Linked DNA regions of Homo sapiens: all the other regions are reported to be linked to region 1. The links are microRNA targets in miRTarBase. Many come from high-throughput screens and were not tested one by one. Region 1 holds a microRNA gene; each other region holds the end of a gene's coding sequence. Distances are from middle to middle.

The links. Region 1 holds the annotated microRNA hsa-miR-3664-3p (UCUCAGGAGUAAAGACAGAGUU, at 4,878-4,899, opposite strand). A microRNA usually pairs through its seed, bases 2 to 8, with sites in the 3' UTR of a target mRNA and lowers its output. Matches are read on the target gene's strand: a 7mer-m8 pairs with bases 2 to 8, a 7mer-A1 pairs with bases 2 to 7 and ends in A, and an 8mer does both.
Region 2: miRTarBase lists ZCCHC4 as a target of hsa-miR-3664-3p. Seed matches in the 3' UTR shown: 7mer-m8 at 1,926-1,932.
Region 3: the mRNA of LPXN is a reported target of hsa-miR-3664-3p. The part of its 3' UTR that is shown has no 7-base or 8-base seed match.

What each region holds. Positions count from the first base shown.
Region 1 is chr11:70,867,412-70,875,675 of GRCh38, forward strand. MIR3664 (microRNA 3664) reads right to left here and starts at 4,957; the gene lies at 4,859-4,957. All of the region lies in intron 11 of SHANK2 (SH3 and multiple ankyrin repeat domains 2), which reads right to left.
Region 2 is chr4:25,367,630-25,375,775 of GRCh38, forward strand. It overlaps ZCCHC4 (zinc finger CCHC-type containing 4), which reads left to right. Exons shown (of 13, transcript NM_024936.3): 13 at 1,400-2,754. The coding sequence ends at 1,535. Among named protein-coding and RNA genes, the nearest start is that of ANAPC4, 5.6 kb to the right of the region's middle.
Region 3 is chr11:58,520,421-58,528,684 of GRCh38, forward strand. It overlaps LPXN (leupaxin), which reads right to left. Exons shown (of 9, transcript NM_004811.3): 8 at 7,623-7,771; 9 at 6,451-7,303. The coding sequence ends at 7,034. Among named protein-coding and RNA genes, the nearest start is that of OR5B21, 16 kb to the left of the region's middle. RefSeq lists a silencer at 4,176-4,470.

The DNA.
Region 1 (8,264 bases):
ACGAGAGGCAAGAGCCGCTGTTAACAGCAAACAGCTATGTCCACTGCTGGGGAGTACGGCATGCGCATGAGGGCTGAGGGGTGGGGCAGGACGGGCCAAAGCTGCCTGAGCCAGGGATGCCTTCACAACCTCGCTGCCCCAGCCAGAAAAGTCTGCCCAGGCCACCGGCTCGTGAATGTGGGGTCAGCTCAGCCATGTTCCCTCTTGAGAATCGACGCTATAGATTTGTATTCATTACCCACTGAATTCAGAGCCAGCCAGACATCCACGTCTCACCCCAATAAAAGCTTTAACATTTACCCAGCGGCACAGAGTCATTATTCTGTGACAATATTCCACTGCTGACCTTTATTGCCTAGGACTCTCTGTGAAGTTTCCAAGGAAGCATTTCAGCGTTCAGCACACAGGACCCAGGTCCACCGCCTCCACTGCTCCTGCACCGGCCGGCCCCCGCCTCCCGCCCATCCATCTCTGGGCTGTTTGCCTCTGTCTGGACTTCATGTACTGACAGTGTGTTTGCTACCACTTAATTCCATCACTGACTGTGCCTCCCTCTAAATTGATCAGTGTCAATTCTGGGCAAATAATTGGGTGGAATTACCAGCGGGTCCACCCGTGCTGATTATGCAAATAATGTACGCCGTCACCAAGGGCCCGGCGCTGGCAGTAAGTGTCTAAACTCCTTAGCATTTGACAGCATAATTGAAGACACAAATATGAAGCCTAATGAAGAGTTTCTTTTCTCGAGGAAGACTCCCTCGTTCTCACTTTCAATGGCTTGGCCCAGAGGGTGCAGGTGAAGAAGGTGGGTCGCATAGACACAGAGGCTGAGGGGGTCGGCATACGGACACCTGTCCACGGACATGGGGCGGTGTGATCTGCTCTTGGACAACCCCAGGGTCATAACCTGTGCCTGCTATGATAAGCCTGGTCAAGCTGGATAAACTCCCAGGCCTCGGTTTCTCCATGTGTAAAATGGAAATAATACTATAATAAACAATGACAACAGTCAAGAGTCCCTCTACCACCACTGCTACTAGCTGGGCACGAGGCTATTGACTATTATTTATCCCTGTGATACAGAGGAGGCAACTGTGGCACAGAGAGGTTAAGTAACTTGTCCAAAGTCACACAGCCTGTGAAGGGCAGAGTCAAGACACAAGCCAAGAAGGTGGGTTCCAGAGTCCAGGCTCAGCCTATGGACTGAGCTGGGCCATGTCCACATCTTACACAGTCAGCCTCACACCCCACGGGGGCAGCCCAGGGCCCCACCCACACAGGGAGCACAGTCACTGGAGCTGCCACGGCCAGTCCTAAGTCCCATCCGGGAAAGGGCTCTGGCACGGAAAGCCCTGTTTGGACACAACATGCGGCCTCCTCATCCTCACCCATTCTCTTCCACAAACCTGCCCAATTCTCACCCAGGGTGCCAAAGTCCAGAGGATGTTGGGGGAGGGCGTCCTGCAGTTAGAAGCCACATCCAGGTGGGCGCTGAGTGCTAGAGGCTGAACTGTGTCACCTGCAAAATTCATGTGACGCAGGCTTCACCCCCAGGATATCAGCATGTGTGCGACTGTATAGGGAGATGGGCTTTAAAGAGGCAACTAAATTAAAGTGAGGCCAGATGGGGCAGGTCCTAAATCCAATCCAACTGGCGTCCTTACAAGAAGAGATCAGGACACAGACATACAGAGGGATGACCCCATGAGGATACAGGGAGAAGGCAAAGTCTACAAGCCAAGGAGAGAGGTCTCCGGAGGAACCAGTCCAGAGACCCCTTGATCTCAGCCTTCCAGCCTCCAAAACGGTGAGACGATAAATGACTTGTGTAAGCCTCCCTGTCTGTGGTGCTTTATGACGGCAGCTGGAGCAAACTCATACACCATAGATCCCGACAATCTGTCCTAGAGGCCTCCAGACCAGCAGGTTTCAGAGGGAGGACAATGTATCGGTCCACAGGCCACAGAATGCTTGGGATGCACCGATCGGCACGTTATTAAACCCACTGGGACCAACAGAACTCCACACATCCCATACCAGAGTGATTAATGCTTCCAATCTCAGCCTGTGCTGTAGGAGGCTTTCATATTTCACGGCAAAGTTGTGCAGACCAGTTGGTTCATGGCAGGCTGTCTGTCCCACCTTGCTGCCTATGGCCTCTCCACCAAGCCAGGCTCGGGTATGGAGCTCCTGACCGTCCACAGCACTCTGTCTGCTCTGTGTCCTGGGCTAGAAACCTGATAACCAGCAGATACTTCCTTGGGTTGGGCACCCTGGGCTCGGTGACCACCGTGTCATCTTGGCATGTCCCCATCATCTCCTTGATTGTCCTCCCCCAGACAGGGGGCTCGACGGGGAGTCCATGGTGGTGTTGTTGGAAGATGGGATGAGAACTGACACTGTGGTCACTTACTGCCGCACTGGGTGCTCAGTCGCCGCTGGGTCAGTGCAGGGACCTCACCACCAATTATGTGAATGCCTCCCCTCTGCCTGAAGCTCCCCAGGCTCTGCCTTCTCACACACCCAGAAACCCTCACAAAAGTCCACAAGAGTGTCCCCCCAAATCCATGTCCACCCAGAACCTACGAATGGGGCCTTAACTGGAAATGGGTCATTGCCTCCTTGCAGATGTGATCAGTGAGGTTGCGACGAGGTAATACTGGATTAGGGAGGGTCCTAAATCCAATAATTAGTGTCCTTATAAAGAGAGTGTGGCCCAGGGCACTATGGAAGAGGTTTGAGGATGAGCACAGCAGCAGAATCTGAGTGCTGGAGGCTCACCCAGGCAGAGTGTGCTCCACTTCGTTCCAGGGGACTGAGAGAAATGAACCCGGGGTGAGACCCAGAGCCGTCCCCTCCTGCAGTCCATCTGGGCCAAAATGAGAGCCCAACCAGTGGGGAGGGAGGGGCAGATTCAGGAAATAGAAAAAGTGGAAGGGGCTGGTTCTGGACAGATGGGAAAAGGGCAGGTGAGCGCCAGGAAAGATCTAGGAAGGTTTTTGGGTTTTCAGTTCCTGGGCCATAACTGAGATGGGGTGCCCAGGAGGAAGGGCCAGCTGGCCAGGAAAGATGGGGTATGTTCACTGGAGCTCCTGTAACCACAGCCTGGGTGACTGAAACCACAGGGATGAATTGTCTCATGGTTCTGGAGGTTGGAAGTCTGAGGTCAAGGTGTTGGCAGTGGGGGGGTTCACACTGGGGACTGCAGGGAGACTCTGTTCCAGGCCTGTCTCTCCAGCTCCCAGTGGCCTGTAGGCAATCTTTGGCATTCCTTGACTGACAGAAGCATCACCCAGAGCTCTGCCTTCATCTTTGTGTGAGGTTTGCTCCGAGTGCATGGCTGTGGCCACATTTCATTCATTCATTCATTCATTTATTTATTTGAGATGGAGTCTTGCTGTGTCGCCCAGGCTGGAGTGCAGTGGCACGATCTCGGCTCACTGCAGCCTCCGCCCACACAGATTCAAGTGATTCTCCTGCCTCAGCCACCCAAGTAGCTGGGACTACAGGCACCCGCCACCACGCCCGGCTAATCTTTGTATTTTTAGTAGAGACGGGGTTTCACCATGTTGGCCAGGCTGGTCTCGAACTCCTGACTTCAGGTGATCCATCCGCCTCAGCCTCCCAAAGTGCTGGGATTATAAGCATGAGCCACTGCACCCGGTCCCATTTCCTCTTTTTATAAGAATATCAGTCCTACTGGATTAGGGCCCAATCTAATGACCTCATTTTCAGCTGATGACTTCTGTAAAGACCCTACCTCTAAACAAGGTCACACTCTGAGATCCTCAGGGTGATACTTCAACATATGCATTTGCAGGGACACACTTCAAAGGGGAGTCAGGGGTCTGGGCTCGCCTGGTGGCAGGCTCTGCAGGAGATGAGTCTGAGGGTCCAAGAGGAGGTCCAGGGAGCGCTCTGCAAGCCACCAGCCCCGAAGATCACTGGCACCATAGGAGCAGGGCAGGATGGGCGGGGGTGGGGAGCAGAGAGCAGAGCAAGGGCAACCACAGAACCTGGGGCCACACCACCTTCTGAGATGAGCCACATAGCCTGGCACTGAGCCTCCTTCACGTGCTGAGGCCACATCTGTGTGCCATGGAGCCTGTGAGCCCCTGGAGGGAGAGGCTGTGCCTGGGACCCTGCGGATTCCCCAACACATTTGCTGAACAAGCAGGGCAGGGAGAGAAAGGAAAGTGAGGTCGAGACAAATATTATAAATATGACCATATCCCTGATGGAGAAGAAAGTCAAGAAAGAGTTCATGTTGAAAGGCAACACGGGCCAGACACACCTGGTACTCAGGGGCCCTGCAGGGTTTTACAGCAAACTGTGGCCACATGGGGGCTGGGAGGGGACAGCCAGGAAAGAGGCACAGTCCCCATCTGAATTTGACTGAGAGACTCTTTGAAGCCGTCTGAGATTTCCATATACGATTTCTATTAATATTTAAGGCAAGACGCATCCCATCCTCCATAACAACACCGTCTTGAAAGAAGCCTTTGAACTACTTGAAAGGTAAACCCAGCATTATTCTTGGATTAAGAACTCTTGTTCATTCAACAAATACAGCCCCACGACGACATCCCTGAACACCAGAGCCAGAGGTGCCTTGGCATGTGCACGCTGCCTGCTTCTGCAGCAGTAGGATGATGCGTGTGTGGCCTGTTACGTCACACCGCCAGTGGGTCTGGGCAGTGTCCCATTGCCAATTGCGGGAGGAGTCCTTCAGGGCACGGATGAATAATCATGCTAAGTAGGATAAATAAAAACTATAAATAGCCTCAAATCAGTTCAGGTCAAGTACTACTGCCAACGAGCTACGGAGAAGGCATTCGCTTTTCAGATCTTTTTGCAGATCCACATTGAAGGTAGGGAACTCTGTCTTTACTCCTGAGAGCTCGTGTTGGAAGGTACTCATGAGTGAAGACAGAGTTCCCTACCTTCAAGTTTACAGAGGAGACGGGGTGCACAGTGGAAAGGAGGGGAAAAAAACCCCACACGCATGAAGAGGAAAGACAAGTAGGATGCAGGCTTGGAGGTGGAGGCTCGGCGGGACGGGGAGAAAAAAGGACAAGACCCTTCCCTAGAAGCGCTTGGTGGACACAGTGGGTGCAAACGACCAAGTGGCTGGATGGAGGGAAGAGAGACCCTCAGATGGAGGGAATAGGGGGCCCCCATACAGAGGGGCCCCCCACAGACCAGAGTCAGGGGCACACAGGTCCGTGAGCTACGTGGAATGAGAGATGGGTCCCTGGACCACATTACTTCCGGCTCCCTGGTGTATCTCCTCCACGTTCTGGCCACCTGCGGGTCCCTGTTTTCCTCCACACTGACCACTTGAAAACTGATGGGTGGCAATTTTCACCCCTCATTGTCCTAAGGGTCGTGGGGGCTGCTTTGCTTGGTGCTGGAGTCTGGGGCCACAGTGGAACATGGCATTGATTGCTAAGAGGAAGGGACCCCACGATGCCCTGTAGAGCCCAGCTCCTCGGGGCAGGAGGAGCACATATCCACTGTCTGCCCTCTCCCCACACTCATGACCTCCACCTCCCCCAGCCCCAAACATTACAAAAGCTAAAGACATCCTGGGCACCTGTGAGAAAGGAAGAGCGGAGGTAGTTCCCACGTCCATCCTGGTGCCTCTGCCTCCCGGGTGGCGACCCTCAGGAAGGTGAAACCTGCAGCTTGGGCCCTGCAGTTTATAGAATGATATGTTTGTGGTTCCCTAAAACAAAGAGCCGTTGCCACAGCAACCGTGGCATCCCAGCACTCAGAGGCTATTCTCAGACACTAAACAATGAGTTTTGCCTTTCAAATGCATTTGATACAATTTGCTTGGAAGGCATTAACATCCTCTGACAAAACCCATGAGGAAGAGGAGGGCAGGTGAGAGCTGACAAGGTCGAGACTTGCAGGGCTTCCAGGAATCACACCCATTCATGAGACAGGAGGGCCCAACGGCCCCAGACACTTTCAATAGGCAAACAGGAAATGGGAAACAGCAGAGGGGAGGCAGGCAGGATCCCTAACCTTCCAACAGCAGTTCCGTGGAGGAGGAGGGGCTGCCCAGAGGTGAGGCAGTTGGGATCCCTAACCTTCTAGCAGTGGTCCCATGAAGGAGGAGCGGCTGCCACACACCCTTTCGGGGCTTCTTCAGGAGAGACGTTCCACAGTCCCATCTGGGGCAGTTCTCTTCTTCAGGGTCACTGCAAAGATGGCAGCACAGGCCAGAGCCCGCAGCAACCACTTAATCCACCCTGCTCACTCTGCAAAGGACATTGAGTGCGTCCCCTGCTCACAGCCAGCCATTGCTTCCTCCATTTACCATTTTTTTTTTTTTTGCCAGTTCATGAACAACTTTGCTATTGTTTACAACGATCTCATGGGATTAGAATACCAAACAGTGATGCCAGTGAGAAGACCAAATAACCTTCATTCCTAGCACCAGCCTCCTGTCACTAGCACGCTGGGCAAGCTGCCCTCAAAAACAGCTCCCGGGCGTCAGTGACAGGAACACGTGTCATCAGGAAAAAGGCATGATGTAGGCAGGCTGGGGGCAGCATCCCAATGCAAAGTACATTTTTGAACAGACTAAAGAACATGTGAACAGTACACAGAAATTCCTCCATCTAGCCATCTATCCATCTACCTATAGATCCATCCATTCATCCATCCATCCATCTTATCTATCAATCCATCTATCTAATCTATCCTATCTATCCATATCCATCTATCCATATCTATCTAATCTATCTACCTACCTACCTAATCTGTCCATCCATCCATCCATATCTATATACTCCATCTATCTATCCATTCACCCATCCAGCTATCCCTCTAATCTAATCTAATCCAATCTAATCTAATCTAATCTATCTAATCTATCTAATCTATTTATATGTAATCTATCTATCTATCCATGATTTATCTATCTATCTAATCTATCTATTGAGACAGGGTCTCTGTTACACACACTGGAGTGCACTGGCCCAGCCGTAGCTCACTGTAGCCTACAACTCCTGAACTCAAGCAACCCTCCTGCCTCAGCCTCCTGAGAAGCTGGAACTACAGGCACATGCCCTTCCTCTGTATGGCAAAATTATTTTCATTAACAGTCATGTAATAACCATCATTTTATTGATTTGTGCATCAGTTTTAAAACCAAATATTTTGAAAGAATGAATGTCAATTTTAAAGGTATTATCCAAATCCAATAAAATAGTTCATGTAAGCATTGAAATCTGCATATCTGCATTTACTAAAAAAAAAAAAAAAAAAAAAAAATTCCACCTTGTAGTTCACATCCACTGCCGTTTCAAATTTTAAACACAGATGAAAACTCCGAGTGGCTACCTAGAATGACAGCACTGAAGGAACACGAGTTCACTTTGTCTTTATAGTTACTGTGCCCTCATGTCTGTTTCAAATCTACCGTGTAATAGCAGGAATGGTGATCACAGGGCATGGAGACCAGGCCATTCCGGACCCTGCAGACTTCACTCCAGTCAAAAGGCTGTAGCTAAGCCCACTCATGCCTGAGAACCACATGTAACTATAACAGGCTTCCCCAAGTTAATGTTCATACAGAATATGGTATTCACTAAAGGATACATTATAAAAAGATGCTAATTTGAAGTTCACAGATACATTTCAACAGCAACTGTAGCAATTGCTTAGATCTTAGACCAACGATTGGGGGAAGGAGTATTTTATCATTGGCAATTTTTAGAACGGGGGGACATGGTGATCATTAAAAGGGAAGGGACATTTAGCTGGCTTTATTGTTATTTGGAATTCTCTCCAGATGAAGCAATAGAAGTGCCCTCCTGTTGCGTGTACCTGGGGCAGACAGCGTCACTCACTCCGCCCCCAGTAGAGCTCTGCTTTCGGAACATGATGATAAAGCATTAATATTGCATGTTTGGTGAAACCCCGTCTCTACTAAAAATACAAAAAAAAAATTAGCCAGGCGTGGTGGCAGGCGCCTGTAGTCCCAGCTACTCAGGAGGCTGAGGCAGGAGAAAGGCGTGAACCCGGGAGTGGAGGTTGCAGTGAGCCGAGATTGCGCCACTGCACTCCAGCCTGGGAGACAGAGTGAGACTCCGTCTCAAACAACAACAACAACAACAACAACAACAACAACAACAAATATTGCATGTCTGGGAGCTGGGCATGGTGACTCACGCCTGCAATCCCAACACTTTGGGAGGCCAAGGCAAGTGGATCACTTGACCCTAGGAGACCAGCCTGGGAAACACAGT
Region 2 (8,146 bases), not on the chromosome of region 1:
GTATAATACTGTAAAGATGACTTTTTTGGTTTTAGTTTTCAATCCTACTCCTTCTGTAGACTGTTCTATTTTGAACTGATAAGGTATCCCTAGTCCATAGTGCAAAATCTAAATATGAAAAAATTTAAAGTTGTCAAGCAAAATTCTGCATAATAGTCATGTGGAACTAATAATAGCTAATACTTATTGAGTGATTATTATATGGTTAGCAGTTTGCATATATAAATAATTTAAAGTAGAGTATATAGTAGAGCACAGATCCTGGAATCAAGCTGGTTCTGCAAGTTCCTCATGGGGTGTTCATTGATTTCATAGCATTTTCACCTAAAAAAGTAGGGATAGAGAGGGGGTGACTATCCCCCTTATCTCTGTCTCCCAGCTCCTTGAAGTCAAAGATTATGCCCATTCATTTTTGTTTTCTCAACAGGTAACATATGCTGAGTAAACAAAAAGTGAGGCATAAATTGAACCCATTAGGGGATACATTGTTTATGAAGCTCTTTTCCCAGGTTTATTCCTGACAAGATCAAGAATAAGCTTTTCCTATGGAGAAGCTTATGAGAGGTGAACCTAACAATTGATATTGCTGGGTAATCAGGGGAGGAGTCCTGGTTTGGCATTGTTGTAGCTCTGGCCCCTTCCTTGGTTCTCAATATGTTGAGTGTCATGGCATGATTCTGCTAGCTTGGAGAAGTGAATGGATGGGCCAGTCATTTTCTCAGCTGCAGGTCGCCTGTAACTTAGTGTGGAGAACACCAGAAACAAAGAATCTGTTTTGTCTGGTGTGGTTCAGTGTTTTCAGAGGGTGAGTTCCAGCTTGTTTATTTTGAAGCTAATCTTCAAGATAAGGACCACAAAATGCTGATAACCCTGCGTGGCACTTGTCAGGACTTTTAGATCCGCTGAGGAAAGGAAAATCTGTACGACTTAGGAAACAGGCCCTTTCAAGGCTTCTCGGTTTTTTCCATTGTGCTGTTTCATTTTTCTGTCTCTGCTGACTGCCCCATGTATCAGCTCCTCTCCAAAAAAAACGGAATTCAAGGATTTGGAGATTGAAGTGCTGAGTTGAGCAATACAGATGTACAAAAAACTTTTTTAAAAAGTCCAATCTCACTAGCTTTGCATTTACCTCTGTGGTGTGTTTGCCCCGGACAGCTTGTTCTAAATCCATAGTAACCATCTTTTAAAGAATTTTTTTTTCTCAAACATTTTGCTTGGTTAGGCCTCTGACTCTTCCCTTGTTGTTATGGTTAGGAGACTGAGGATTTATGCTTGCAATACAGTAGATTCTTTCCCTTCTTCTATTTTCTTATTTGGTTAGCTAGTTAATTAAACTTCAACATAATTACATAATTCACTGTGCTCATTCTGTGAAATAATTTAGCACCTTGTTTTCCAGAGCTGTCAGAAAGCAGAAGCAAAGAAAAAGTAATAAGATGAAAATGGAGACCACGAAAGGACAATCCATGAATCATACATCTGCTACAAGGAGAAAGAAAAGGAGGGAAAGAGCCCATCAATATCTTGGCTCTTAAATGTCCAGTGACTGGAGAATAAGAAAGATTTATGGTCCAACCTTTGATGCCATTTTCTGAAAGTGCCACACTGGACTTAAATTCAGCTGCTTCCAGAGGTGTGCACCTTTCTGAGCTAGATAACAGGCAGGTGGCATTTGCTGGTTTACAGTCCCTTATCTGCCTCTCTGGAGACATGGGGAGTTGTTCCATCTTCAGCCAGTTTACTAGTTCTTTCAGCATTCATTTTTCCTCACTTTAAGTCTCTCCCAGTCACATTGTTCTATTTTTATGTTTTCATTTTTTTTGAGATGGAGTCTTGCTCTGTCTCCCAGGCTAGAGTGCAATGGCACAACCTCAGCTCACTGCAACCTCTGCCTCCCGGGTTCAAGCAATTCTCCTGCCTTAGCCTCCTGAGTAGCTGGAATTATAGGCACATGCCACCACGACTGGCTAATTTTTGTATTTTTAGTAGAGACGGGGTTTCACCATGTTGGCCAGGCTGGTCTCGAACTCCTGGCCTCAAGTGATTTGCCTGCCTTGGCCTCCCAAAGTGCTGGGATTACAGGCATGAGCCACCTCACCCAGCTCCGGTCACATTATTCTAGCCTTTTTATCCAAAAAATGGGCAGACCATTCTTTTGCAGAAGATGTCAGAAGAAAATGAAAGTGAAAACCTATGCAGTTTGTTTACCGTGAACATAAAAGTATGTTAATTTAAATAGGAAAATATTTTATGTTAAATATGAAACAATAGTTTAAACCCCACTTGAAAAGTATAGCGTACAATTATTTTTAGACTGAATTTGAAGATGATGGAAAGGGTTTTTACAAAGGCACTGTTTAGATATACAGATTATAATTATAATTACATTATTATTAAATATTTATTCTTCAAGTACTTTTTGCAGTTGTCCTCTGACGGTCTAGAATCACTTAAATGCTTGTTGAATGAGTGAGATGTTTAGAACTACGACTTGCTCTGTCATTCCAGTGTCGTTTAACCTATGCAGTAAGATTCTGTCTTTGTAAAAGTAGTTCGTAGCAGAAGCCAGGATAGTTTGGTAATTAAACGCCCAAACTAAACTCCTCATTCCTACCCTTAATATTTCCTGGCTGTATGATCTTGGCCAGGTCACTCTCTAAAAGCCCCGGTTTCTTCATTATTATCATTATTATAATGGGGAGAATAACAGCTATACCTGAGGTTTGTTTTGTGATTAAATTAAATGAGACCCAAGTGCTTGGCTCTCAGTTCTCCTCTGTCATTGGTGTGTTAGGTTAACAATGAAGATTGTTACTGGGTCTAATGGTAATTACCTTTTGGCCTGATAACAAAGCATTGAAGGCAGTAATTTGAACTCCCAGAACAAACAGTTCATCTCCCCGTTTCTGTGCTAGTTATTGTCTCCTTAAGACTGAATTGTTTTGAATGACTTATATTTGCATAATGACTTTTCTCTTGTTTCCAAACAACTGCTGTAGAGCAGATTTGAAGGCATCTTTGTTTGGGGTTAGGCAGAGCCCTGTAAGTAAGGGTGGAGGAACTGCACTCTATCTGGTATTTAAATTCCAGGTAAGTTAGGACTGATGCCTGGTGTAGAATGCTCAAGTGTGGCCCAGATCAGTGTGGCAGTGGTGTACATCAGTTGATGTCAAAAGATGAGTTATACCCCTGGACTTCATAAGCATCAGAAAGCTCTTCTCCCTTTTGTTACATGGAGGGCTATGATAGGAGGGGCACATTTGGAGGTGACTGGGTGAGATATGAAGTTTGTAAAACCGTTGTGAGAGTTCCCCTCTCTGATTCAAGCAAGGATAGGGACATTGCCTGACTTTATGGTGTTCACCATTCCATGATAAAATCTATTGAAATCTCCTCTGAAACTAAGACACCTGAGGGACTATGACTACTGAAAAATTGAGTTCTGAAGGCCAACAGTTATTCTCATCACTATATTGCCTTAATGTTAAGATACCATCAATTATAAAATACATCATTGATTTTATCATAGCTTTTCAGGGGGAGAAGAGAAATAATACTTCATTAATTAATTTTTAGATCATCTGATTTCAGAAATACTGAAATGCAAAAAAAAAAAAAATCTTAGAATTGAGGAAATAGTTATAATCAGGAATAATGTACTTATTTATTTTGAGACAGAGTCTTGCTTTGTTGGACAGGCTGGAATGCAGTGGTGGGATCTCTGCTCACCGCAACCTCTGCCTCCTGGGTTCAAGTGATTCTTGTGCCTCAGCCTCCCTGGTAGCTGGGATTATGGGTGTGTGCCACCACACCCGGCTAATTTTTATATTTTTGTAGAGACTGGGTTTCGCCATGTTGGCCAGGCGAGTCTCAAACTCCTCATCTCAGGTGATCTGCCCGCCTCAGCTTCCCAAAGTGCTGGGATTACAGACGTGAGCCACCACACCCAGCCAGGAATAATGTACTTTAAAACTTTATTACTGTCTTAGAAAGTTAAAAATAGGAAATTTGGTGATTTTACACTTATATTCAATTAATACTAATTTTAAGGACTTAATCTCTATTCCTTTTTCAGAGAATAAACTAATTGGTAGCCTGTAAAAATGTGTCTCTGGGAGGTAGAATGTGAAGCGGGATGAGGTCATTTGTTCTTAATAGAAATCTGAACATCTTAACATTAAGATACCTTCTCAAAATAGCAATAGAAGAAAATCCCTAAAATTTGACAGATAACATTTTCTAAGCTTTTTAAAAGGACATTTTTAATAAATACAGCTAAATTTCATTCTTCTTATATTATGAAATTTAATGAGAAACAAAGTCTTTTTGTAGGCTGGATTTCATGTTTTTTCCTAATTAGTCCAGTACCTAGACTAGTTTATCACTCCATATGCCCCATTCTTTTCATCCGATACTGTTCTTTCTGCTTGGAATATGTCCCTCCATGTGGCCACTCCGTTCTCTTTTGGGAATCTTCCACGAGTCCCTGATACTGAAACCTTCTTTGGCCCCTTGGTGTTTGATACCACATTTAAGGCCTTTCACATATTATTCTGTGATTATTTTTACTGATTTTATTTCCCTCAAAGATTTAGGTCTCTTAATGTCAGCACCCATTTCATCTGCTCTTGTGTATCTTGTGCCTTTTTGGTGCTCAATAAAAATTTGATGTAAGCATGGAATTTTCTAGAGGCTTTGAAGTGGTAGGCATGCCTGAAATACGGACTGGACCCACTCTATTATGTTTCTTCTAGGGACTGAAAAGGGAAACAGATTTGTATTAGGAGGCACTTAGAGTCAATATGAGGACCACCCTAACTGAAGTTTTAAATGTGGGGATGTGCTGCGTGAAGATTAGTAGCCTTGTAGCAGGATGAGCCGTGGACAAAACCCCACAGACACCAAGATAGTGAAGGAAGTAGCTTTTAATCAGTTGGAAGCATCGACAGTCTAGTGTCTTAAAATCCGAGTTTGTTGAGTGCACAATTTCTGTCCCTTTTAAGGGCTCACAACACTAAAGATTTTACATGACAGGGCCGTGATCGATTGAGCAATCTAGGGGGTATGTGACAGGGGCTGCATGCACCGGTAATCAGAGTGAAACAACAGAACGAGAAGTTTCACAATGTCCTTCCATACAATGTCTGGAATCTACGGATAACATCGGTTGCTAGGTCATGGGTTGAATTTTAACTATCAGGCTAAGGTCAGGCAGGCCCAGGCCTGGTTTTGGGTCTGGTGCCTGGCACCCGGCTGCCTGCCTTTGGTTTTGCTTCCTTGTTTCTTAAAACAGGTACTGAGCATAAAACAATATAGAACAATACGGGGGGGGATCTCTTTCTCTCTTCTCTCAGCTTTATCTGCAAGACCCCTTCAAAGTAATCTGCAAAATACTAGGCATCTGGGAGAAGTTTGACTAATCTTGAAATATAAAATCACAACCTACAAAGGGTCCTGGTCAGCTGCCACTGCCTTCACAATGTCCCTGTTGGTCTCTCCACTGGAGTAGTACATCTGTTGCCAGAGAAATAAAAATGTCAGTTTGTGTGTTGTTTTTATACTTCTTTTATGGTACTTAAATCATGCCTTGTATAAGAATGACTTTATATACTTGTTTAGCCCTGTACAGATTAGAAGCTCGTTGATGGCAGTGCCTGTGGACATCATTGTGTTTGCTTACTAGGCACATGCCTTTTCTACGGCGATAGAGATGACCAGCCGCATCACCTGTGACCTCAGTTAATGGGAAGCAGGCAGCCAGGCTAACACATTTCTTCACCATCTAGGTAGTAGGTGCTCATAAATACCAACTGAGTGAACGGAAATGCCATTTAATATACCGCTTTATGCCTCACACCTTAACTATACTATGGAAGAAGCAGATACACTTCGAGCTCTCTAGGTAGGACAGCTTCCACAAAATCTAAAGGAAAATCCAGTTTCACTTATTTGATGTGATTTTAGTTGGACCATGAGGACCTGGGCTGAAATTAAGGGTCAACTAAGAAGGTCATTGCAATAAAGTAAAGATAAGATCTCTGCTATTTGATTTCAGGCAATTTAGTATAAATGTTAACTCAGCAAGATGAGGCTATAATAGCACCAACATTGAGCAACAAGATCTCAGAGCCCTGAGAGGCTGAGTTTTATCCCAGTTGTCTTTGGTGGAACAGTTAGTTACAAGATCCCTGGTTTAACTGCTTCATACCACTGGATACTAGAAGAGGTGAAACAGCCGGTAATCTCTAAGATGGTAGGCCTGAATAGATGGGTCAGTTTCTTCATCTGCAAGTGTGGAGAGGAGGAGTGGGAGAACACTAGAGGAAGTCAGCCCAAATATTCCACATGCTTAAAGAAGACAGGCCAGGTGCGGTGGCTCACACCTGTAATCCCAGCACTTTGGGAGGCCAAGGGTTGGGGGGGGGTGTGAAGGGTGTGGATCACCTGAGGTCAGGAGTTCGAGACCAGCGTGGCCAACATGGTGAAACCCCGTTTCTACTAAAAATACAAAGCCGGGGATGGTGGCGGGTGCCTGTAATCCCAGTTAGTTACTCGGGGCAGGATAATCACTTGAACCCGGGAGGCAGAGGTTGCAGTGAGCCGAGATCACGCCATTGCACTCCAGCCTGGGCTACAAGAGTGAGACTGTCTCAAACAAACAAAAAAAAAACAGAGGAAAACAAAGGTTGCTGCCTGTTAACTTTACAGTTAATACATGAGCCAGGTAAATCAAGGAAAAATAAAAGCATCTCTAACCCTACCACCCAGAGATAATCACTATTATAACTTCCCTGTCTACTGTTCCAAAGATAGGTTCTTGCATAAATAGGCTTACAGACACATGCAAAAATTTCCCTCAAGAAAATGGAATTTTAAGTACATACTGTTTTATGACCCATGCTTTTTCATAAGTATACTGTGAACATCGATTTATGTCTGCATAATATTCTTCAGGATAGATATATTTTTTAAAAATCTATGATGGGACATCTAGGTTGTTTGCATTTTTTCACTTTCGTAAATAACCTTATAATGAACATGCTTAAGTAAATATTTATTTCTCCTGCCCTTGCCTCCTTAAAAAGCACTGATAGCCGATCCCTGAGCCTTCTTCCCTTTTTCTCTTTATTCTGCAGTATTTTCCTAAGGATGGGGGAGGCAAAAAACGGAGTAGGTAGAGCTAAAATCTTTATGGGGCAGTGGGAAAAAGAAAAGGCTGGAAACACGATGTGTTAATATTTCTTGTCTTACGGCTACTTTGGATCATTTCCAAGAACAATTCCTGCCCCTTACTGCCTACCAACACACATGAGGGTCTATAGCAAGCTTGTCTAACTCGCAGCCTGTGGCCCAGGAGGGCTTTGAATGCAGCCCAACACAAATTCATAAACTTTCTTAAAACATTGTGAGATTTTTTTTGTGATTTTTTTTTTTTAGCTCATCAGCTGTCATTACTGTTAATGTATTTAATGTGTAGCCCAAGACGATTCTAATGTGGGAAGACAAAAGATTGGACACCCCTGGTCTATAGCAGCATAAAACTCTGCTGTTTCCTGCCCACATCTGGAACTCCACACTTAGGCTGTTTCCTTTGCTGTAAGGCTTAGAAAATTTATATTCTGTGAAGACTTAATGTGCAGGTGGTTATACTCTGTCCTTTGCAGTACGGTGTTTATGCCTCTGGGAACAGTGATTTTCACGTGCTGTATGGGTGTTTGTATTCAGGTAAGTTCCAGGAAAATGGACATTCAATTTCCGTAAGAAGGTTAATGTGCATAGATACTAGACCCCCACCAGGTGATCCATTATAACTGCCCCAAAACACTAACACCTGAAAATGCATTTTGTGAAAAACAAAGGCAAATGCATTTTTACCTTAGAAATGTTGATTCTGGAAGAGTTGGGGGCACTTGGTAAGTTGTTTGTGGCAAAGGCAAGGGCTGCAAAGCCCGTGACAGGAAGCAGGGTAGGTATAAAGTCAAGGATTAAGAACAGTACTTGGCACAAAATAGTTACTTGATGCTGAATGAATTAGTCTCCCTCCGTCATCTACTTCCCAGGGGCTAGATCCAGACAGAGGTCAAGAAGATGGGGCCTGTTGAAAGTTAAAGGACCTGCCGTCTGTTTCTTCTTTGAACAAGTGAAA
Region 3 (8,264 bases), 12 Mb from region 1:
ACCAAGGTTTACAAGCGGTAAATTCACTTACAGTTTGCAAGTGGTAAACTCAACTTTTAAATTTTGGTTTGCCTGAAGCCATGGCTGCTATTCTTGCCACTATAACCAAAACAGTGTAGCCTAGAGCAGATCACTTTGATGCCCTAGTGCCCTTGCTTGTCCCTTGAAAATTCACCTCATGGGCACTTTACATTGTTGATATACAGCCTAAAAGAAAGCATCCCAGACAAGGAATTAACAAACTTTAGTTCTGTTTCTAAATCAAGTCACCTTGACCTATTCATGTAATCAACTGCTTCTTCCACAGGTAAATGGAAATAATAATCCTTGCCCACTTTCTCCCTTCTGTCATCCCCTCTACTAATACTACCTTAGATGAAATACATTAAGCTTCATAGAGCTGGGAATATTATAAAACTTTGCAAATGCATGGCTTACCACAAATTCGGTCTTGTGATTACCGGTAATGTGAAGTCCTTTGGTATGATTTTCTTCCTTTTAACCTTACCCCTCGATAACTTTACCCAACAAATGGCATTAGTTCCCCACCCCTATCTGTTGGCACTTACTGCTAGGTACACACTGCTGCTCCTACTCAAAGTGCCTGTGATTTAGAAAAAGGGCTTTCTTTGGCCTCAGAGTACATGCAGCTTGAGTACAAGGAAGACAAAGTGGGGTGTAAGGGTTGGTGGACCACCTCTTGTACTCTACAATGAATCCCAGAGGTCCTCTGAGTATTGAGTTCCAACTTCCCAAGACAGTAATCTGCTCATTAATGCACACTGATTTGGCTTCCTTGCCTTTTCTTTTTTGTTTGTTTGTTTTTTTGGGTTTTTTTTTTTTTTAGACGGAGTCTCACTCTGATGCCCAGGCTGGAGTGCAGTGGCGCTATCTTGGCTCACTGCAACCTCCTCCTCCCGGGTTCAAGCGATTCCTCTGCCTCAGCCTCCTGAGTAGCTGGGACTACAGGCTGCACACCACCACACCCGGCTAATTTTTTGTATTTTAGTAGAGACGGGGTTTCACTGTGTTGGTCAAGATGGTCTCGATCTCCTGACCTCGTGATCTGCCCACCTCGGCCTCCCTAAGTGCTGGGATTACAGGCGTAATCCCTGTAGAATATAGAAAATATCTCACTTTTGGCTCTTCTAGCTGTACATCTAGAGATTGCCTCCTAAATAGACTACTATACACAAGTCCTAGTCTCAGCATCCACTTCTAGAAAAACCCCAAATTGTGAGACAATCTAGGGTAAGTAGTAGCTTCACCAGGTAGTTTGTGTAAGGGAACTGAGTGACAATTCCCCCCACTCTGTCTTTCTTTTCCTCAGATAGTGTGTTATACGGCCCATCTTGCCTCCTTTACTGAAAGCTCTGAAAATTTCACCTTGCCCAACTCAAAAATTATCTTATATATCCTGTAACTTTCTTCCGTCCTACTTTTCCTCCATTTCAAAATTTTCAGATTATCTTAGGAAAATCTCCAAGTTCTTCATTTTATTTTTGAGCCTCCAATATTTTCTAACTCATGTCTGAAAATGCAAGAGCACCTAGAGACAGAAAGTCCTATTTTCTAAGTGTTATTGAACATAATGAAAATAACCACTTCAAACTTCCAAAGCATTGAAAAGTGTCCCTAAGGTCCCCTCTCAGAATCACTATAAATGTCTTCTTTTTCCTCCTTAACTTCATATAAACCCAATTTTCTTTAAGTAGCACCTTTCAGGATGTAATGGACTGAATGTGTCGTTCCAAAATATGTTGAAGGCCTAACCCCCAATGTGGCTGTATTTTAAGTAAAGAAGTAATTAAGATTAAACGAAATCATAAGGGTTGGGCCCTGATCTGATAAGATTGGTTTCCTTACAAGAAGAGACACCAGATCTCTTGTGGTCTCTCTCTCTCTCCCTCTTTTCACCCTGTGAGGACAAAGCAAGAAGGCAGCTATATGCAAGCCAAGAAAAGAGCCCTCAACAGAATTCAAACCTGCAGACCTTAATCTGAGACTTCTCATCTCCAGATCTATGAGAAAATAAATTTCTGTGGCTTAAGACACCCCATTTATGGTATTTTGTTTTGGCAACTGCGCAGACTAAGACACAGGATAAATGTAAATTGATTTCTCTTATAATCGTCTAATTTTTCTTCCTTTTTTGTTTGCTAGTGGGGTATCAGGATGTTTTAAAACTAGTTTTCACTATAAAGAGTATTGCAGTAATATCAAATACGTAATAGTTCTCTCTGGATTATAATTAAACAAAGTAGCATGAATACCATCATTTCCAAAACAATTTTAAATCTTAGAGGATGACAACACCCTCACAACCTTTTTCTTCCCCTTTGTAATAGTGACAGATACTGCAAAATTGGACAGGAGCAAGAAGCTTGTACTCTAAATATGCGAGCTATCCACAGGATGACTTAACCTTAAACTACAGAGTTTCACTGTGCTCTGGTGTAAAAAGCATCAAGAAGTGATCAAACACTATTTTTGTGTATTAGTTTTTCATGACGATATACAATATACGTTCTGTACCAACACTGAGTTTATTTGTTCAATGTAAACAAAAAAGAGAATTTATTTGCTCACATAATTTCCTAGTCTATGGTTAAGATGCTGCTATGGTAGAACTGAGTGGCTCAAAAAAAGAAAACACAGCCTCTCCATTACTTGGTTCTACGTTCCACTGTGCTGGCCTCTTTCTCAGACAGCCTCCCCCAAGTGATGATAAAAATATTTATCAGCAGCAATGGGTTTTTATTATCCGCACAACTAGAATTCCAACGAATGGGAATGTTCTTTCTGAATAAATCTAGTAAAGGTCATTGGCTTTGCTGAGGTCACATGTCTATCCCTGATCCAATCACCTTCCTTCAGAAGAACAAAGTACTTTTATTGGTCAGACCTGGGACTGTACCTATTTCTGAGGCTGAGGTTAAAGTCAGCCTTGCCTAAACACATGGACCAAGAATGGGAGATGCAGTTCTTTGTGGAGAAACTAGACTGTGGGGAAAAACAGCTCAGAAATTCACTCCCCTTTCATTTCACGTCCCATCCTCAATTATATCCAATAATATTATTCAACATAGCATATCAAAGTCCAAAAACATTAAAATCCAAAATCAAATTCTCTAAGTTAAAGTTTAGAGAAAGTAAAGCCTTCTTTGATTCCTTGGTCTGTTCATTTTCAGCTTTAGGAGTTTTTCCAGTAACACCTGTGATCTGAGATATCTCTCGCTAGAATGGAGGTACTTATCCCAGGAAAAATGTTATTCCCATAATACAGTATTTATTGTGATTTAATGATATCCAAAATAGGAAGGGAAGATGGATGGCTCTCAACAGGGTGCCAGGAAGTTTATGCAATTGTCCGTAATCCATGGTCTATGAACCTAAACACAGTTAGGAGACTTCTCCCCACGGAAAATCAATTTAGGCACTATACGCTGACTATATCTAAGGTAGGGGAATGTCCTACATAAACTGTCTCCTTTCTTATAAATTTGAGACAACACTGCCTTCTGGCAAAGTTATAAATTTGCAACAAGTACAACCCAAGCACCAGCTTTTACCTGAGATTTCTTTCTTTTTTATCCTGTGGATCCCAAGAGATTTCCATTTCCCCACTGAGCTCTGTGTTCCCAGCACTTAATGTGCTGCACTGATGGTACCTAGTAACACAACCTCCACAATATTTTGGGGACAGGCAATCTCTTTTTCAGTGTCATATTTCAGTGGCTGCCACCACTGCCTTATTGAGGACGTGCTTATGCCTAAGACACTCGCCTCTAAAGGAAGCTGCTACTCTTTCTCACCTTGATTTCAGCTGCAAGATCTCCTTTTCCAGACTGCCAAACTGAAGGTGCTTTTGATGCTTCTCAGTGGTGCGCCCCTAGGGGCCCAGGAAGAGCAGTGCCACTGCCGCATGTTCCTCAGGACACCAGCATTCCTGGCTCTCTCCTCTGCCTTTGGGTTCTGTAAAGTTCTTGGACATGATCCCTCAGGATACTGACAATGCCTGCTTGCTTACCTTCTACATTACCTTGAAACTCAGAAACTCCAATATTTTCACTTTTGAACACACGAATTCAAGATTCATTGTCCTCTTCCCGCTTCTTACCAATATCCAGCTTTTAAAGTATTCACATCTCCTCCACAAAGCCCTTGTGCTTTCGGGAAACTTAGTCCTGCTTGTAACTTTGGAAATAATTCAGTTTGGTTTAAGCCAAGCTGCAGAATCCATTCCCCCAGCAAAAATTACTGGTATGTGACCTAGGCTAGACCAGTGAGGATGAATCCCAGAACTTTTGCTTGCAAATGCTCGATAAAAGCACTCTTGCTCCCCCTACTGGTTATGAAACAAGAAGCATGCGCTGGCAGCCATCCTACAACTCCAAGAAGAGTGTGTGATAGAACTTGGATGGAAAAATAATTGTTGTCTTTATCAAAGTATTACCTTGGAAGAGACTAAATTTACTTCAAAGAAAAACTGACCAAACTAATTGAGGGACTCCCCTTTGAGAATACAGTGCCAACTCTAGAGCATATTCCTTTCTATATGTTTATATTCACTGGTGGAAAATCCCTGTCCTGTGAGGGTGGGTTTTATTTTTTAAACATCCTAGAAGTTACTCAAAACCAAAAGTAAATAAGTACGTGATCAATTTTAGTAATGGCATTTCCAGGGTTTTTAAAAAGCAGAACTTTTTACTTGTGAGTAGTTTCCTTATTGCTAAAACACTGGTCCTGAAGTCAGTATCTCTTTTTGAGCAAATAAAACCACTTCCGTTCAATGTGGGAAGAAAGTGTTTTCACTTCTTAATTACATCTTAGTGAACTCTGGATTTTCTTTGACATTTAAAAATAGTTAAATTCTATTGAATCTCAAAATAGCTAATCCTTTTTAAAAAAGTTTTAGCACCTGTACATTTCTTTTTAAGGGCTAAAACTCCAAGTTTATTTTGTCAAATTGCCAAGGCAACCAAGAACATTGCCATATTAACACCTGCGTGTGACATCGTTGAGTGAAGACATTGCAAAGAGGATGTTTAAAAGTTGAATGTGTGTTCTGCATAGTCTGGCGCTCTCAGACAGCCAAACAGGATAGAGGCCAGATGGTTCCGTATCTGTGTGGCCTCCCACATATCTTACATGCATTTGGAGTTCCTATTTTATAGAATTAACTGTTGCCAATTCCTTGTAACTCTCACAACCCCCTTATTATCCATTCCAACAAAGGACATAGATATAATAAAGTTTGGCAAGAAACATTTAATCCATTTCAGCTCTCCCAAGTAGTACTATTCCTCTATCAATCTAAAGACATCAAATTTTGTCCTATTTTTAAAAATACCTCCAGTGAAGGAGTTTTCGCCAGTAACTTATCTCAGAATCAAGGATTCTAAGAGTCTGGTTTTTGTTATAACAAATAATCACACAATTATTTTTAAGACCACGGGAAGAAAGATATTGTACTGATCTTCTCAATATCCCTTTTGCAGAAAGATTAGTCCTTGTGAAGCTTACTTTTATAAAAAGTAAACTGTAGGACAGTAAACTGACAGGACATAAGAAAATCAGATTCTCTGATAACCTGACAAGCTTTTCTAAACATTTACTTATAATATTTTGAGATGAACAAATGATTAAGAGGAATTTTTCTTTGAGTCTTGGCTTTCCTAATTCTAGATAATAATCATTTGAGCTTTATTTATAGCATCTTTCTTCAGAGATGCTCTAAGAACAGCCATCTCATTTGTCTTCAGGAGGCAAATGTGAAATTGTGTTTCATTTTTTACTTTAGAAATGAATTTGTGGCTGGGCGCAGTGGCTCACGCCTGTAATCCCAACACTTTGGGAGGTCGAGGTGGGTGGATCACCTGAGGTCGGGAGTTTGAGACCAGCCTGACCAACGTGGAGAAACCCCATCTCTACTAAAAATAGAAAAATTAGCCTGGTGTGGTGGCGCATGCCTGTAATTCCAGCTACTCAGGAGGCTGAGGCAGGAGAATTGCTTGAACCCAGGAGGTGGAGGTTGCGGTCAGCCGAGATCGCGCCATTCCACTCCAACCTGGGCAACAAGAGCGAAACTCCATCTCAGAAAAAAAAAAAAAGGAAAAAGAAATGAATTTGTAAGGTTTCTAATGGAGAGCCAGGGTTTCTCCTCCTGTAAACAAAGTAATAAAAACAATTTTAAGAAGCTTTGTCATTTTTAAAAATGATTCAATCATCTAAGTCTAGAAAATAAAATGGTTATGGGACCAAACTAAAAAGAAAAAAAAGAAAAATTAGTGAAAAGGAGACCCTCCTTTTAATTTCTTCTGATTAAAAATTTTAAAGTGTGCATTGGATGGAAGGAAACGAGGTATGATATAATCTTAATTGTACATAGTGCCTAGTATATAACACGGGAAGCAGAAAGTTTATCTCCCAAACAAATATGACAATGAGTTATTGAAACCACAAGCCAGTTTATTTATCAATGATGTCAGTACTCAAAGTTGTCCAGTTAAAATCTACTTCCTCTTGAAAAACAAAAATACACTGAAGGAAGATGCAAAGAGCTAAAAGTGGTATCATGATTCCACAGCAGTGATTGTAAGACAGTGAGCCACAGGGAAATGGGAAAACGTGAAAAGAAACAAGTATCAGGACCAAATTAGAGAAGATATGAGTAGGGCCATCACTAGAGGTGAAAATGGAGAAACCTAAGAAAACCAGTGTTGGCATGAATTATGCAAGTGGAAAATACATCTGTAGAGGGACGAGATAGAAGGACCTAGATCTAACTCCAAGTGCTTGATTGGAGAAGAGAGGGAGAAAGAGAATTTATAGAATTAACTGTATAGAAGCCTAAAAAATAAGATTATCAGCCTAGTCATGTAAAGTCTAGAAGTTCCTTTATTTGCTCATCACCTTTCCTTTTTCTATAAGACTATTAAGCAGAAGGTCAGTAACAGAAAATTTACCCTTTCCTCTCCTCTCTTGGTTTAAATTTTATAAGGAATCTGAAGAGGCTATGGATCAGTTGGCATTACAGTGGGAAGAGCTTATTGAAGCAAGGTTGACAATAGGTCTTGTCATTCTGCTCCCTGAAAATGCCCTTCGACAACTGTGTCAGGCAGAAAGCACACACAAAGTGCTCAGGATGGAACTTGTACCCCATGGCACTGATACAACGGCCAGTGATGGGCTGCCCACACCCATGGCAGAGCGTTCCCCGGCGGTGATGGTAATGGAGCTCACAGAATGGACGTCCATCCAGTTCAAAGAAGGAGCCAGTAGAAAAACTGGTGAAGCAGTCCTGGGGTAGAGAGAAGAGAGAGAAAAAGAATGCAAATGTCAAGAGGTAAAATGTCAGCAAAGTAAAATTTTCAGCCTTGAAATTCCTGACAGTTACCTGCCAGCTACAGGAATTTCCCTCAGGTTCTTGACAAATGGAGACTAGATTTCCCGCTTGCAAAACAGACAAGCAAATGGATCTGTATCTCGTTTCTCCTTTAGGATGCGCACATCCATTCCTCATTCAGGACTGTGAACCCTTTCACTAACTGCAGCTCTTCCTCTCAGAGAGGAGAACCCTTGACTTTCCCTAAGTCCGAAAGAAAAGTGATTATACAGACCCCACAAACAAAGCACTCTGGGTGCCAGACAGTGTCCATGGCTGAAAGGTAGTTTTCCAACACTGGGCGATTGCAGCCACCACACTTGGGTGAGAACATGGCTAAGAAATCCTTTCGGCAATATGGCTTCTTGTCCTTCTCATGAAAGCCTGGAGAGATAAAATCAGGAATTCACTGTTGCAGGTTGAGCCCTGAAAGCTACACTGGAGACTGAGAGGAGGCCCTTTCAATCTCAGTGTCCTCATATTCAAAATAGGATGATTACTGTTACCTAATTCAAAGGGTAGTTGTAAGAAATAAATGAGATAATGCAGAGGAAGTGTTTTGGCATTGTGTCTGGTTCATAGTAAACATTTAATAAGTGTTAGGGGCTATTGCTCCTCAGTGCCTTTGTACTAAGTATTCCCTTGGCTTGGATAGTTCTGTCCCAGAGCCTGATATAGTTGTCCTCTTCATGTGATGCAAGAATCACTCAAATATCATCTTATCAGAGAGGCATCTCTTCAGTCCCTCCTTGTCACATCATCTTCTTTCACCGTCTTTATGGCATTTACCTTTATTTAAAATCATCTTTGTGGGCTGTCTCCCCTTACAGGAACATTAGCTCTGAGAGAAACTAGATATTGTTGATCTTGTCACCAT